2 separate regions of the Homo sapiens genome follow, and region 2 is linked to region 1. The links come from fine-mapping of genetic effects on gene expression. A gene starts in region 1. The other region holds a variant in brackets. All regions are shown on one strand. Distances are between the middles of the regions. Region 1 holds the start of GPR162 (G protein-coupled receptor 162). Region 2 overlaps CD4 (CD4 molecule).

The links. PIP is the estimated chance that this variant, and not a neighbour inherited with it, causes the effect.
Region 2: its variant is fine-mapped to the expression of GPR162 in whole blood (TOPMed, PIP 0.97).

Annotation. Positions count from the first base shown.
Region 1 is chr12:6,820,045-6,823,015 of GRCh38, forward strand. GPR162 (G protein-coupled receptor 162) reads left to right here and starts at 1,777. Exons shown (of 5, transcript NM_019858.2): 1 at 1,777-1,856. CD4 (CD4 molecule) reads left to right here. Exons shown (of 10, transcript NM_000616.5): 10 at 1-755. RefSeq lists an enhancer at 788-1,760.
Region 2 is chr12:6,798,403-6,801,239 of GRCh38, forward strand. It overlaps CD4 (CD4 molecule), which reads left to right. Exons shown (of 10, transcript NM_000616.5): 2 at 1,670-1,785; 3 at 1,905-2,069. The coding sequence starts at 1,737. Among named protein-coding and RNA genes, the nearest start is that of CD4, 10 kb to the left of the region's middle. The variant A/G (reference allele first, on the strand shown) is at 1,820.

The DNA.
Region 1 (2,971 bases):
TGATTACCAAGTGCCGGACTAGCAAGTGCTGGAGTCGGGACTAACCCAGGTCCCTTGTCCCAAGTTCCACTGCTGCCTCTTGAATGCAGGGACAAATGCCACACGGCTCTCACCAGTGGCTAGTGGTGGGTACTCAATGTGTACTTTTGGGTTCACAGAAGCACAGCACCCATGGGAAGGGTCCATCTCAGAGAATTTACGAGCAGGGATGAAGGCCTCCCTGTCTAAAATCCCTCCTTCATCCCCCGCTGGTGGCAGAATCTGTTACCAGAGGACAAAGCCTTTGGCTCTTCTAATCAGAGCGCAAGCTGGGAGCACAGGCACTGCAGGAGAGAATGCCCAGTGACCAGTCACTGACCCTGTGCAGAACCTCCTGGAAGCGAGCTTTGCTGGGAGAGGGGGTAGCTAGCCTGAGAGGGAACCCTCTAAGGGACCTCAAAGGTGATTGTGCCAGGCTCTGCGCCTGCCCCACACCCTCCCTTACCCTCCTCCAGACCATTCAGGACACAGGGAAATCAGGGTTACAAATCTTCTTGATCCACTTCTCTCAGGATCCCCTCTCTTCCTACCCTTCCTCACCACTTCCCTCAGTCCCAACTCCTTTTCCCTATTTCCTTCTCCTCCTGTCTTTAAAGCCTGCCTCTTCCAGGAAGACCCCCCTATTGCTGCTGGGGCTCCCCATTTGCTTACTTTGCATTTGTGCCCACTCTCCACCCCTGCTCCCCTGAGCTGAAATAAAAATACAATAAACTTACTATAAAGATGCTCTTCGTGTGTGTGTGTGTGTGTGTGTGTGTGTGTGTGTGTGTGTGAGAGAGAGAGAGAGAGAGAGACCCCTTCTCTGGGGACCAGGAATCTTCTGGTCTTTGGGGTCGGACCCAGAGGAGAGGTTGCTGGGCGTGCCCCAGGAAGGAGATGAAGTTTCCCTGGAGAGGGAAAAATTCTGTGGAGGCTGGCTACCCACCTCCACAACCCACAGGGCTCTGTGTGGGCCTGTGTGTGTGTGAGGCTGAGACTCTGTAATTACATGTGTGTGATATACCGTGGGGGAGAGACTCAGGGTTGTGTGAGCTCTCCTGGTGTATGTGTGTGGCAGAGAAAAAGGACTATGAGAAACTGTAACATGTGTGTGCAAATTGTATCCCCAACATATGTGTTTGTGTTCCAGGAGGAGGAGGCAGAGTGTGTGTGTCTGTGTGCATGCATGCGCCCACATCCTTTTAGCTTGTGCACAACCACCCCCAACTCCACAAGCAGCCCCAGTGTGCACCACAAGCCCCCTCACTCCCAAACCCAAGGCCCAGCCCTCACACAGATACACACAGTGACACACGCTTCCTCCTCCCCGAACAGCTAGCTCCTCAGTCCCCAACAACACCAGCTGCCTCTTGGAGCTTGTGTTCGTGTTGAAAACGGGAAGGGGTGGGGGCAGGACATGAACCATTTCACCAATGAAGCCGGTTCCCAGCCATCCTCCTCACCGCCCTCCCTCTCAGCGCCTTCCTTGCCCCTCCTCCCCGAGTCACCACCGTCCAGTTCCCCACCCTGCACTCGTTTCCCGCCCCCCCCCGCCCCCCACAAAGCTGTCCTGCCTTCCCTCTGGCCTGGGCTCACTGGCAGGACGACCCCGGGAGAGAGGGTCCTGGAGAGTGAGAGGGGCAGAGACCGAGTGAGCCGTGGGCTGAGCCTGGGAGGCCGGGACTGAGGGGGAGGAGGGAGGCCCGGGGGAAGGGAGGGAGGGAGAGAGGGAAGGAGGGAGGAGGGCGGGCGAGCTGGAGCCGGCAGGCAGCGGGAGCCCGAGAGAGCCGCGTCGGGAGTGCGGTCTCCATGGCAGTGCTGGGCGCAGCCGGAGAGAGGTAAGACGACCCCTGCCTGCCCCGTCCCCTGTGTTGCCTCCCTTTCCCCCTCAAGCTGCCTCCTCTCCCCTAGGCCGGCCCCTCCTCCCCAGCCACCTGCTGTTTCTGCCCTGGAGAACCTGGAGGGGGACAGGAGGGAGGAGCCGCCTGACCTTACCCCTTCACCCCAAAGGGCGAGGGACCCCGTCGGCCAGGGAACCTCCCAGATCCCCCTTCCCACCTTCCTCTGATCTCTCCCTGTCCTTCACCTCCCTCTCTCTGTCCTTCACATCTTTCCTGCCTCCTTCCCTCTCTGACTCCCTATCTCTTTCATCCTGAGCCCACCAGCTGGGCCTGGGTGGAGGTGGGTGGGAAGGGGTCCAGGGCTGTAGGAGAGGACACTGGGGGCTGCTCTTGGCCAAGTCCCTCCACCTCCCTCTGGCTGGCCATTGCCATGGCAACTAGGGTGTACTGGGCTCCGGAGGGAAGCCAAGGGTGGGGGTGGACCAGGACCTCTTGGGGAAAGCAAGGGTCTGAGCTGCTTCCATGGGAAACAGACCCTTTCACTGCTGTGCCCCATTTTTACCCCACTTACCCTAAAGCCATTATGTGCTTCCTTACAGCCCCACTCTGTTCAGGGTTTCACCCGATTCCCTTACCCCCCTTCCCAGGGCTCACTGAAGCTCAGCATCACGCACTAAAACTGGGACCATCCTTCCTCCCATGAGAGGGAAACTGAGGCTCTGGGCCAGGGAGGAAGAGTCAAGGTCTCCCCACGGGGAGTCAGCACCTTATTGAACATTTGGCTTTTCTTCTCAGCCTCCTATTCCCTGCTCCCTCCCTCCCTCCCTCCTCCAGTCCCTCCTCCCTCCAAAGCCTCCTCTCCAGGGGGTTTGAGCTTTTCCTGCTATTTTCAGATACTACCACTTTGCCCCCTCTTTCTCTTCTGCTCAAACTCTCCTCCTTCTCCCTAGTTCCCCCTCTTTCCATTTCTGGATGCTTCTGATGTCAGCGGTTTCCCCGCCTTCAGGTTCCCTAGCACCCCCTTCGGTCCCAGACTCCTTTCTCCCATTTTCCCAGATATGGGTAGCTGGAGGGTGATCACCCAGGTTTGGGGAAGTAGGGGCTAAGCACCA
Region 2 (2,837 bases), 22 kb before region 1:
ACCTCATGATCCGCCCGCCTTGGCCTCCCAAAATGCTGGGATTACACGTGTGAGGCAAGAACTTTTTAAAAGTGCATCTTGCGCAGCCCTAGATCCATTAAACCTTGATTCAATACAGGACATGTTTTTGTGAGCACAGGGTTGGGACAAAAGTTACAGATTAACAGCATCTCAAAGCAGAACAATTTTTCTTAGTACAGATCAAAATGGAGTTTCTTATGTCTTCCTTTTTCTACATAGACACAGTAACAATCTGATCTCTCTTTCTTTTCCCCATACCTCTCACGCTGTATCAGGCCCCAATTCTTGGGAACGTCACCTTAGAACTGTCCCACACATTTCTACAGCCACTTGGCTCAGGCCCTTTGCTGACCAGGATGGTTGCAGTTCTGCCTTTGGTGCCTCGCCTCCTCCAGTTCTTTCACTCAGCAGCTGCAGGGGTCCACGTGGCAAATCTAATAATCTTCTTCTCTATAGAAAATCCTCTGCTGGCTCTCTAGTGCCCAGGATCCAGTCCCAGCATCTCAGCACGGCCTTCAAGCATTTCCACGTCCTGGCCTGGCTCCATGGTCTCCCCGCCAATTTGCCACCTTCTCCATGCATCCTTTTCTGATCCCCTCCTCACTCATCCCAGCAAAGAACCCCCTCCTGGCCTGAGCATAGCATTTCGTGGTGTGTATCTCAGAGCATCCAGTTAGGGGTGTGCAAGTTTACTTTGTTACTGGCTGATGTTGTGAAGTCCCAAGTTGTTGGTGCCGCAAACAAAAAATTGGACATGACACACACAAATAGCAAAGCAGCAAAAGTTTATTAAGCACAGTACGATCCACTATGGATCAAGGATGACCTGCGAATGGTATCAGCATCACTTTGCTATATTTCATGGCCTTTTCTATGTGTTTTTTTTCTCTTTTTCCTCAAGCTGCCTAAGCTTTAGCCAGCATGTGCCTTTTGGTTGACAGGTGGGTTGCTTAGTTTCTTGGCCTCTGTGTGTTTACGTGTCATTTCCTTCCCATAGTTTTAAGTACATGCATGATATGCACTCTGTAGGCATGAACCTTAAGTAGCTAATTACTATACGGGGTCATTTTGAGGATATCTTTTCTCTGTAGTACATGTGCATCTTTTTTTGCAGTGGTGCAATCTTGGCTCACTGCAACCTCCTCCTCCCTGGTTCAAGTGATTCTCCTGCCTCAGCTTCCTAAGCACCTGAGACTACAGGTGCATGCCACCACGCCCGGCTAATTTTTGTATTTTTAGTAGAGATGGGGTTTCACCATGTTGGCCAGGCTGATCTCGAACTCCTGACCGCAAGTGATCCACCCACCTCGGCCTCCCAAAGCACTGGGATTACAGGCATGAGCCACCGCACCCAGCCTAGTATATGCCCATCTCTTAGGAGCTGCTCCTAACTGGTTTGGTTTGGATCTAGCCAGCCATGGGGCTCCTTATTCACTTATTTATCTTCTGTTTTTGCTCACCTGCCTCTTTCTCTTGCTTCTGCTCCTACTCATTCCTTCCTTAATCCAACCTCCAATTCCCTCTGCTATTCTCCTGCCTCAAGTTCACTAGGCTGGCTGCAAGGGTCCTGAGGGAGAGGTTGTGTATCGCCCCTGTATACTCCAGGTCCAGTAAATGTTTGCTGACTAATGATTGGCATTTCCCTCAGGCCCTGCCATTTCTGTGGGCTCAGGTCCCTACTGGCTCAGGCCCCTGCCTCCCTCGGCAAGGCCACAATGAACCGGGGAGTCCCTTTTAGGCACTTGCTTCTGGTGCTGCAACTGGGTAAGTTCTCAGACCTGGGGTCTCAATGCAGATG[A/G]CGTGGGAGGAAAGGCAAAGGTGGAGGATGGGGTAGAGGGGGACAGCGGCGACATTGAGACCTGACTCCTTTCTTTTCCACTTAGCGCTCCTCCCAGCAGCCACTCAGGGAAAGAAAGTGGTGCTGGGCAAAAAAGGGGATACAGTGGAACTGACCTGTACAGCTTCCCAGAAGAAGAGCATACAATTCCACTGGAAAAACTCCAACCAGATAAAGATTCTGGGAAATCAGGGCTCCTTCTTAACTAAAGGTAGGGTTGCCTGGCTCCCCATCCAGGGAGGAAAACACACTATGGAGTGAAAGCCTTTGGTGTCTGAGATCTGGTCTTAGTTAAACTCTGGGATCCCAGAGGGCTTGGGTTGACAGAAACTCAGTGGCATTCTTATCCAGAGTTTCTCTACACCAACTGCTGGTGGCCCAGGGAAAGGTGGTATGTGAATTTCAATATTTTAATATTTAATATTCATGAACTTATTTTAGTGAGTTTTAGAACAATCACTATCACTTAAAACCCGTGATTTCTTGAGTATTGTTGCTACAGACCTATGTAGATAATACTTTGCACAGTGACTCATATGTATAATCCTAGCACTGTGGGAGGCTGAGGCCGGAGGATTGCTTGAGTCCAGGAGTTCAAGACCAGCCTGAACAACATAGTGAGACTCTGTCTCTATGAAAAAAAATATATATATATTTTTTTTGGAGACAAGGTCTAGTTCTATCACCCAGGCTCCAGTGCAGTGGTGTGATCTCGGCTCACTGCAATCTCCACCTCCCAGGCTCAAGTCATCATCCCACCTCAGCCTCCCAAGTAGCTGGGACTACAGGCATGCACCACCATGCCAGGCTAATTTTTGTATTTTTTATAGAGACAGGGTTTCACCATGTTGGCCAGGCTGGTCTCGAACTCATGAGCTCAAGTGATCCACTCACCTTGGCCTCTCAGAGTGCTGGAATTACAGGTGTGTGTCACTATGCCTAGCCAAAAAAAATTTTTTTAATTAAAAAAAAAAAGGCC